Linked DNA regions of Homo sapiens: region 1 is linked to region 2. The links come from fine-mapping of genetic effects on plasma protein levels. A gene starts in region 2. The other region holds a variant in brackets. All regions are shown on one strand. Distances are between the middles of the regions.

Region 1 (5,382 bases), 210 kb before region 2:
TATGTATAAATATACACATCTACTACCCACAAAAATTAGAAATTTTTTAAAAAGATATAGACAAAAGAAAAGAAAAGTTGGTTAAGGGATCTAAAATACAGGTAAATGGAAGGGATTAGTGCTAGCACTCAATAGTACAGTAGGGAAATTATAGTTAATAATTTATTGTATACTTCAAAATAGCTAGAAGGGAAGAATTATAATATTCCCAGCACAAATAAAATATAAATATATGAGGTGGTACATACTCAAATTACCCTGATTTGATCATTACGCATTCTATACAGGTATCAAAATATAACATGTACCCCCAAAATGTATACAACTATTATATATCAAAAAATTGCTTAAAAAGTAAATTTTAAATGTTTTCTCCACAAAAAAAATAATAAGTATGTGAGGTGATGGATTTGTTAATAACCTTGACTTAATCATTACAGAAAGTAAATGTATATCCAAACTGCACTGTATCCCAGAAATATACACAATTATTATTTGTCCATTGAAAATAATTGTTTTTAAAAAATCGCCAGTAAGAGCATGCTCAACATCATTAAAGTAATCAAGAAAATGCAAATTTAAACCACTACAAAACCACTGGAATAGCTAAAATTTAAGAAGTGGATAATAACAAATTCTAGTGCAGATATGAAGGAACTCAAAGTTTCATATGCTGCTGACAGGAGTGTAAAAAGATACAACCATTTTGGAAAATATTTTGGCAATTTCTTATAAACATACACATATCATATGACCTAGAAGTTGTACTTCTACAAATTAAGAATAATGGACCAATAGTTTAACAACTTAAATGTCCATTAGCAGGTGAATGGTTAAAACAGATTGTGATATATCCACACAATTAAATATTACTCAAAATTAAAAGGGAGAAACTATTGTGATATGAAATAAATGGATGAATCTCAAAAACACTATATTGAAAGGAAAAAGCCAGACATAAAAAAATATGTGCTGTCTCATTTCATTTATATGACTTTCTAGACCAGGCAAAGGTAACAGAATCAGAAATTATCTGGAGACAGGTGGAGGTAGAAATGACTGCAAATATGAATAAGCTTTTGGGGATGATGAAAATATACATCTTAATTTTACCAATAGTTATATACATTTGTTGAAACTCATCAACCCGTACACTTAAAATGGGTGCATTTTATTGTATGTGGATTATACCCCAATAAGATTGATTTTTTTAAAAAAAATCAAGAACCAGGTGTGGTAGCTCATGCCTGCAATCCCAGCACTTTGGGAGGCCGAGGCAGGTGGATTACTTGAGGTCAGGAGTTTGAGACCAGCCTGACCAACGTGATGAAACCGTCTCTACTAAAAATACAAACTTAGCCAGGCATGATGGCAGGCACCTGTAATCCCAGCTACTTGGGAGGCTGAGGCAGGAGAACCGCTTGAACCCAGGAGGCGGAGGTTGAAGTGAGCCGAGATTGCTCCATTGCACTCCAGCCTGGGCAACAAGAGCAAAACTCCATCTCAAAAAATAAATTAATTAAAATAAAATAAAAAATAAAGAAAGATGACTTGTTCTACCAAATAGTTAAACATAATACAAAAACACAGTAATTAAAATAATGTGATATGGTTCAAGTAATTCAGACCTATGGATGTAACAGACCCTAATAAATTTCTGTCTACCTTGTAACCAAGGAAATTTATAACATTTGCAGTACTGCTACAAATACTGAATTATATAAAAGCATTAAACCCTAGGCCTTTTGAATTCATTATATTTTCAGGGTTTCCCTATCAAGTGAATAATCAAAATATCTAGTGTTCATATTGATATTGATACAGATTCCTGTACTACTGATTCCATTGTGAAGTAATAACCTAAAGGACACATTGGGCTGCTTAATCAATCTTCATTAAGACATCTGTAAAATGTCCAAAGATTAAGCAGAGATTTGTAAAGAACCCTATATATTTAGTCTGAAACTCAAAAGCTTATTCTAGACTCTCCTGTTTCCCATTACCAATAATTTTTTGCAGTACATTATAAACTTGTTCAAAATTCTTCAACCTACAAAATCTAAACAGTATTTTCTTGTATGTATTTCGACCCAACTTCACTTACTGTCAACATTCTGCATGGTACTCATTCACATTTGAGATATATGACATTTATGAAAAAGATAAATTAAAACAATAAATTTATTAATCAATTTTCCTAGTTATCATACTTACAGCCTCAGTACCACAATCACAGATTTCATTTCCCTCCAATCTGCCATTGCCACAGACTGGTTTCGGAGATTTTTTTTGCATTTGTGGCTTATTCTGAAGACATTTGACACCCACATTTGAAATGAAATTTTGAAAGCTCCTCAAACTGCAACTGCTAAA[A/T]GTCTTCACACCATTGGATTGCCTAAAGATGAATCCATATAATGTCATTGGCAGTATACTTCTGGAAACACATTTCTATATGATATAAATTAATTTCAAAATGTTAAATTCAATTGGCTGTTACAAATGTTTATAATAAGTGCTTAGAGGCCAAAATCATACTTGAGGATGTCATGTGATTTTATTCACTGGAATACATGTTCTTAATAAAACAAAATTAAGTACAATTCAATAGCAACACACACACACACACAGTAATCCAATTTTAAAATAGGCAAAGGATTTGAGCAGATATTATTCCAAATAAAAATCAGCACCCAGATTTGGACAGACATCACTTCAAATAAAAATTAGCACCCAATTAACCACAAAATTTTATTAAACAAATGATAATGTGCTTAGTCCTGAAGATCTCAGAAAAAAAGTGTATATTTATCAAAATTATATATTATTATGTCCATATACCAATAATAAAGAGAATTCATTGACTAGTTCCATAGGAAGTCCATTTTTACTATATTTGTATGTAGTAAACATCTGTAAGGCAAGGAAGAAACTGAGATTTATTGAGTACCTATTATGTGCCAGATTTCATTACTGATTTGGCTGTGCACATTGTCTTGAAAGTGACGATTTAAGATATCAGATGTGGAAGAGGAGGCAGAGTAAGAGCACGGGATAGAACCCTCCAGTGATCATCCCTCTGTAGGGACACTGAAGTGAACAATTATCCATGCAAGAAAACACCTTCACAAGAGCTAAAAGAATGAGGTAAAAGATCACAGTAACTGGTTTTGGCATAACAACAAGAAAAGACACATTGAAGAGCATAGGAATGACAGTTTTGCGTTGCCTACACCATCCCGTCCCCAATCTGAAGCAATGCACATAGAGAGTGAATTTGTCTTTTTAGGAGAGGGAGAAGGAAGTGTGCATGGGACTTTGCCTGAAAAGCCTGTACCAGCCCCACTACCGTAAAACACAGCACCAGGCTGAACCCCATGGTCCCTGATTCCAGGCTGGTGCCCACAGATTTCTAGACCTGCCCCAGCTAAGAAGAAAATTCATCACCCCAGCAGGATAGAGCCAAGCCTTGGCCAGCTTCACCACTGGCTGATGAAAGAAGCTTTAGGCCATGAATAAATATCAGCAGCAGTCAGGTAATAGTGACTGTGGGTGTTAGGTGAGCAAACCCTAACCATTACTGTGCTGGTCTATGAGGCCATGGGCTTCAGGTGTAAGCCAGTATGCTGCCAGTTGCAGTGGCCATGAAAGTGCATGTATCACCTCTCCAGCAACTCCAGACAGTGCAGTATAGAGAGCAACTCCTTCTGCTAGGGGAAGAAAAAGGAAGTGAGCAAGAGACTTTGGGCTTGGAAACCCACAGAACTGTCTCTGATATTCCCCAAGTCCATCAGGGTTGGATGCATAGGAATCTTCAAGAGAGCCACAGCGTAATTGAGCTTAAGGTGCTATCTAGTGCTGAAATGGCAGCAGTGACCATGGTCTTAACTCATCAGTCAGTACTCTTGGAATTTCTGTAAGGTCCTCTGAAGAAGGACCAATACAAACAAGGCCAGACTGTAAAGATGAGAAGAAATACTTAATTATTTAATGCCCAGATACATCCACAAGCATTAATAACATTCAGGAAAATATGATCCCATCAAGTATAATAAATAAGGCACCAGTAACCAAACCTGGAGAAATATGTGTAAACTCTTACACAGAGAATGCAAAATAGATGTTTTGAGGAAGCTCAAATAACATCAAGAAAACACAGAGAAACAATTCAGAAAATTAATTATCAGAGATACTTAACAAAGAGATTGAAATAAGTTTAAAAATCAAGCAGAATTCCTGGAGCAATAATAGATAAACTGAAAAATGTATTAGAGGGTCTCGAAAGCAGAAGTGATCAAACAAAAGGAAGAATTCACGAGCACAAACACAGGCTATTTGAAAATATGTCAAGAAGAAAAAAGAAAAAGTGAATTTAAAAGAACAAATAACACTTATTGGATCAGTGAGATACCAAATGTACAAGTCATTGACCTTCAAAGGGAGTAGAGGAAGAGAAAGGGGGTAGAAAAGTTATTTAAAAGAACAAAGAACAGTTATTGGATCAGTGAGATAGCAAATGTAAGAGTCATTGACCTTCAAAGGGAGTAGAGGAAGAGAAAGGGGGTAGAAAGGTTATTCAAATAAATAATAATGGAAAATTGTCCAAACCTCAATATAAATATCCAGTTACAAGAAGGTCAAAGATCACCAAGAAGAGTCAACCGAAATAAAACTACCTCAACGCATATAATAATCAAACTCTCATAGGTCAAAGACAATAGAGACTCCTAAAAGCAGTAAGAGAAAAGAAGCAAATAACATATGAAGGAGTGCCAGTACATCTGGCAGCAGAATTCTCTATGGAAACCTTAAAGACCAGGAAGGACTGGAATGACATATTCCAAGTCCTGAAGGAAAAAACTTTCAACCAAGAATATTGTACCCAGGAAAACTATCCTTAAAAATGAAGAAGTGATTCAAAACTCTTAGACCAATGAAAGTGGAGGGAATTCATCACCACCAAACCATAAGAAATGCTAAAAGAAGTTTTTCAGTCTGACAGAAAAGAATGCTAATGTGCAACAAGAACACATGTGAAGGTATAAAAGTAAACAAACAAATTTAGAACACTCTAACACTGTAACTATGGTGTGTAAACCATTCATATCTTTGGTATAAAGATTAAAAGCCAAAGATATTGAAAACAATAACTACAACAATTTTTAAGAGATAGGTAATATAAAAATATGTGAATTTAGAGATCAAAAAGTCAAAATTGGGGAGAAGGGAGTTAAAGTGTAGAGTTTTTCAGGTTGTGTTTGTTTCATTCTTTGTGATCAAAAAGTGGGTATTATCAAAAAGACAAAAAATTACACACTATAAAAGATGAGGATAAAGGCAATATCTTGAACATTCTTAGTGAAAATGTAAATTACACAACCATTA
Region 2 (5,382 bases):
TAAAAATACAAAAAACTAGCCAGGCATAAGGCTGAGGCAGGAGAATTGCTTGAACTCGGGAGGTGAAGGTTGCAGTGGGCCGAGATCGTGCCACTGCACTCCAGCCTGGGCGACACAGCAAGACTCCATCTCAAAAAAAAAAAGACTGTGAGGGATTAGCTACTGAGATACAAAAGGACTGCATTCATTTATGAGGCAGTTCCATAGCGCTGACTCAAAAGGATGGCATGACTCCAAGCCTCCAGTATATGTTACATACCAAAAAGGAAAAAGAAATATGAGGCTATGTCATATGTTTGAGCTTGCGGATATTCCCAAGAAAAAGCTTCCAGTTACTTAGAGCTTGCATCTTTTGGGGGATTCCATAATAAATTCTATTATAAACCCAGATTTTTTACAAAGAGCAAATATAAATTTGGTAAGTTAAAGCTTCAAGTGCTTTTTGAAAACTGTCTTGGAAACCAGGAACTAGGTTTGTACATATTTTAATTATATATGCTTTCTTTTTTACTTAAAAGGTTGAAAACCAAATCATTCTTAAATGTAAAAGGCTACATTCTCCTATCGGCACAAACACAAACATATCAAATTCAAATATTTTGCTGGCATCTGAAAACGAGATTAGTATGGACCTAAGTTCTTACTACACAAATGATTTTACAGTGACTCACCATGAGTAAGCTTTCAAAGTCATTTTCTTTAGAATGCCAGTCTTTGTTTAAAAAAAAATTCTAAATCTGTTCCTCATAATTACTACCTTAGAAAATCAGAAGAGGTTTCATACCTGATTCCGCTTATTTTTTACAATGACACAGTTACCTTTGTCAGTTTAAAAAAAAAAAAAAAGTTTACTGAAAGTTAGCTGTTTGGAAATTATACTGCATTTCCTCATTGAGACAATGTTATAAAAGGTAGTAAAAATCCTATAAAACCTAATTAACTCCTAATGTAACTGACGTGTGCCTGGTACCTCAAATTCCTCTTTCGATCCTGGAAAATGTTTCAGTGCACGTTTTAAACACCTTATACTGCAAAAATGTGGTCAGCTGATTTTGTATGAACGTTCCCCGAGAGAAACAAGAGTTGACTCACTGCACACTATTACAAAAGCCTCTTAACCGGTGTCCCAGCCTCTAGTCTCTCCCTCCTAGATTCTATCCTCCACCGTGTTGCCCGTTTTCTTAACAGAAAATGAGATTAGGTCGCACCCCTACTTAAAACCTCCACTGCCCAAAGAACTTCCTACGGGGTGAAGTCCAAACCCCTTAGTTCAGCATAGAAGACTCTTCCCAACTGGTAACAACCTACCTTAGTTTGATCTTCCATCCCTCCCTTTTATAGTCTGCATGAAGACATATTGACATTTTTATCATTTCCTAAAAAGTCATGTTCTTTCATACGCCCCCCGCCCCACCATACTCTTGCAAAAACTTTCCTCTGCTTAGAATGTATCTACTATTCTACTTGAAAAATCACCGATGTAGCCCAGTTCAAATATTATTTTCTCTAAAAATCTTCCCCAACATCTCTCAGATGCGCTTAGCATATTTGGTCACCTTCTGCCCCTCTACAATCAACTGTGTGGTGTTTATAGGAGTTCCATAAACGGTGGCTAAACTTTGAAGGGGCATACACATGCCGAAGTGAGGAGCTGGCCAAAACCACAGTTAAAGACCATCAGGATATTCCACTCACCTAATGCAGGTCGGTAATGACTGACAATTTATATTAACATTTAAAAATACAGTCTTATTTACATTTACAAACACAAAAAAAAATCACAGATTAATAAAACTCCGGATGTATAATCGTCTTCACCTTAAACATCGGTGAGTGTTAACCATCTAGAATACCACCGGAAAAGTAGTTTTAACCAGAAGAAATTTGGCAACTTCCCATTCAAAACATTGTCAGAGTTTCAACATTTCCACACTGGGGCAAATTTACTTAATTTCAAATAAAGCAGCCAAAGATAAGAAAAACAAGTAATTAGTTTCCTGAAGGTCAACAGTCCTGCGTTGAAATCTTCTATCATCACCTTTGAATAACTTTCAATCAATGATTTAGTAAAAACTCCCATTCTCCATCATCCTCTGTCGCTGATAGAGAAAATACAGCCATGCAAACAATTATATCATACAAAATCCAAAATAAACAACTTGTTTCCAGAAAGACGCCAGCGTGCTGACAATCTGCTTCCACTATGTTTGGGCATCTCCAATACAAGTATCTTACATAGTCAAGGGCAGTTTCACAATTCAAAAACGATTTCACACAAATGATTTAATTCCTACAATAATCCTGTGAGTTCAAAAGAGCAGGGATTATCTGTCCGGATTTAACACAGTACGAACCCAATAAAAACACAGATTTTTTAAGAATGGTTTGGCTATAGAAAGGTAGCACATCGTTTACAAAATATTCTTACTACAAAAATGACCCAAGAGAAATGAGCGTCCTCCCACCCACCTTTATTCCACCATTAAATTTAGCTGTGTTGACCCAAGGATACCATGAACGTCAAAATTTCAAATTATAACCTGCAGCAAAAGTTTCATCTCTCAGTCTCTTTCCAAGCGACATTAACTCCACGAGCGAGAGCCAGCTCCCTCCCTGCAGGCGTTTGGAGGACTGAACGCCCGCGGGCGCGCCCAGCCTGCAGGGCTCCGGCCCGCCGAGGTCAGCGCCCGCCCCAGAGCGGGTTTCGGGGCGTCTGGGGGACCCGGGGTCGCGCGAGGCGGCGAGGGATGGGGGGACGCTGGGAACGGCTCCATCGAACAGGACACGGAGGAAGCGGTGCCGGGCAGAGGACCCGGGCCAAGAAGGGCTTGGGGCGCCAAACCCCGCGCCTCGGGTGCGACCCCGGTCCGCACACACCTGGAGCGGCCGCGCCCCCCGACCCCGGGTCCGATCCCCAGGCCGGGCCCCTCCACTCCCAGGCACCACAGGTTCACTCCGAGCGCCCCGTCCCTAGGAAGCAGCCGTCCCAACCGACCCGGGGCGCGGACACCCACCTGGCCGCGCCGCACCGAGGACTGGGCCCACCAGGCCAAGCAACAGCAACCACCGGACACGAAGGGTCCCCGAGGGAAAGCGCGCGCCAGACCCCATCTCGGCCGATTCCGCAGGTTCCTCTCAGCACTCGGTCGCCTCCACCTCCGCCTCTTCCATCATTTTCCAACCCTGCCGGGGCCCCAAGTCTGGCCGGGAAGCGCGCGCGCCCGACGAGCACGCGCGCCCGACGAGCACGCGCGCGGCACTGACGCAACTGAGCCCTCGGTCCGAGCTCGCTCCCGACATCGCCTAGCTGCGCTGACGTAGGGAAAAATCCAGTCCCCGGCGCGAGAATAGGATTTCTAAACCGGCGGTGGCAACCAGCACTAGTCGGCCCGCCAGTCATATCCGCCCCGCCCCGTCGGCTGCCGGGCACGCCCACCTAGGGGGGTCGACGGATCCGATTGGAGAACGCATTCGGCGCAAAAGAAGGAGGAGCATGAGACCCAGAAGAGGAATCGAGAAGCAGAAGCAGAGGGCGGAGTAGCCCCGCCCGTCTGCTCGACCTTTTCTAGTTGGTTGGCGGAGGTGCGCGGAGCGTCGAGCTGCGCGTCCATTGGCTGTTTGGCGGGGCTACGCGGGCGGGGCTACGCGGAAAGGCCTGACCACGCAGTTCTTGGGTCTGTGCTGCTGGCCTGGGGTTGTGGTTGAGGCCGGGTCTCCGCTCCTGTGCCCGGGAAGATGGTGCTAGGTGGTTGCCCGGTTAGTTACTTACTTCTGTGCGGCCAGGCGGCTTTGCTGCTGGGGAATTTACTTCTGCTGCATTGTGTGTCTCGGAGCCACTCGCAAAATGCGACCGCTGAGCCTGAGCTCACATCCGCTGGCGCCGCCCAGCCGGAGGGCCCCGGGGGTGCTGCGAGCTGGGAATATGGCGACCCCCACTCTCCGGTCATCCTCTGCTCTTACCTGTAAGCTACCAGTGGTCGAGGCGGGTGGACGTGGAGGGTGTGCCAGGAATATATGGGTGTTAAGGGAAGGCAGGGTTGGGGGGACGCTGCATTTTTTCAGACCCTGCCTCTCTGAGGTCGTTCCGGAGGCAAATATCATGAACCAGGTTTCTCACAGCCCGTGCAGAGAAAACTCTTGTGTGTCAGTGACAGAGGCTTTGAGATCCCCAAAGAGGAAAACTGGGTAGGAGTAACATCATATAGCCTCTGGAAGAAGGGCGTAAGGTTGTGCTTTCTTTGCCCTGCGCCCTTTAGCCCAAGGAGAGTATTAGTCGGTCGATTCGGTGCCAGTACTGAGTAAGGCATAAATGGAGTAAATGACTTGTCTCTGCCTACAAGGCATCTTTTAAAAAAGCAATCAATATTCTTACCGTTGCAGAATCACGCCATTTTTTAACATCTCTTTTTGATCAAACAAGAAAAGGCATTTGGGAAATGCAAAGAGGACTGAGAATACTTTGGCTTAAATTTTGCCCCCAGAATCTTGTTGTTTGCCTACTGAAGAGATGAAACCATGGCAGAAGTAGAATCCTTATAGAAACAGGACCAGAAACACCTCCCTTCTCCAACAAAAGGTTCATTTTGGTGGCTGTCCGTTTGACCTGCTGTGCTTCAGTTTAATTGGCTTGGAAAGGGGTCAGCAGGGTGAAACCGAACCCCAGAAAACTTGATGAAGAAATGTCTTTTGCCCGTTTTGATTACGTGCATGCAAACAGCGATTTGCAAAGACCGTATGATGATGATCATGATCTTACTGGTGAATTACAGACCTGATGAATTTATAGAATGTGAAGACCCAGTGGATCATGTTGGAAATGCAACTGCATCCCAGGAACTTGGTTATGGTTGTCTCAAGGTGAGTTTTTGTTTTGTCGTAAGAGCAAACCCTTCGATAACGAAATAGGAATGTCTGAATGCTATTACATAAAAGTATAAGAGGTACAAAGTTTTTTGAAGAATTTCCTCAGAAAGACCGTTACTGGAAATTTCCAGTATGGCCAGGGTCAGTGACTGAACAAGATATTTGGTTTCCTTATGAAGGAGCAATCTCTGTGCTAAAACCACCCAGGTGCAAAGACCAACCTGTCTTTGGTTCCTTTGGCCACTGACAGATTTTGAAACTAAAATGTCACCCCTGACTCTCCTTCAAGGCATGAACCTTTCCTGAAAGAGCAAAAGGAAGTCTGTGCACTTTGCAACACTGGTGATGGATTGGGCAGTATCTTTGTTACACATGCATTTGGGGCAGAGCTTTTCTTGCCAATGACATTTCTTTTCTCCAGGCAAACAGGTTCCACCATGTCCGTAGGAGACAGATAGAGTCTACCGGTATATGTCTTTGTAGGACATTAAAGCGTTCCAGCGGAAGCCATTGGTTAAC

Which allele goes with the higher level. Positions count from the first base shown, and alleles are read on the strand shown. Strength reflects both the effect of a copy and how common the allele is.
For the plasma level of the protein whose gene starts at base 3,202 in region 2, allele T in region 1 goes with a higher level than allele A (weak association).

Evidence for each region. A credible set is the group of variants that fine-mapping cannot tell apart. PIP is the posterior inclusion probability: the model's chance that the variant is causal. Protein levels are from antibody-based Olink assays in UK Biobank. Linkage for the fine-mapping came from a reference panel and not from the study's own genotypes, which makes the PIPs less certain.
Region 1: its variant is the best candidate, but not a certain one, in a credible set for the plasma level of the ADAM9 protein (UK Biobank, PIP 0.51).

The regions. Positions count from the first base shown.
Region 1 is chr8:39,208,157-39,213,538 of GRCh38, reverse strand. It overlaps ADAM32 (ADAM metallopeptidase domain 32), which reads right to left. Exons shown (of 25, transcript NM_145004.7): 12 at 2,215-2,395. Among named protein-coding and RNA genes, the nearest start is that of ADAM32, 100 kb to the right of the region's middle. The variant A/T (reference allele first, on the strand shown) is at 2,374.
Region 2 is chr8:38,994,793-39,000,174 of GRCh38, reverse strand. It overlaps ADAM9 (ADAM metallopeptidase domain 9), which reads right to left and starts at 3,202. Exons shown (of 22, transcript NM_003816.3): 1 at 3,015-3,202. The coding sequence starts at 3,111. It overlaps TM2D2 (TM2 domain containing 2), which reads left to right and starts at 3,666. Exons shown (of 4, transcript NM_078473.3): 1 at 3,666-3,962; 2 at 4,770-4,857. The coding sequence starts at 3,736. RefSeq lists a silencer at 2,566-2,995 and enhancers at 3,006-3,315, 3,326-3,375, 3,436-3,535, 3,696-3,885, 3,494-4,015 and 1 more.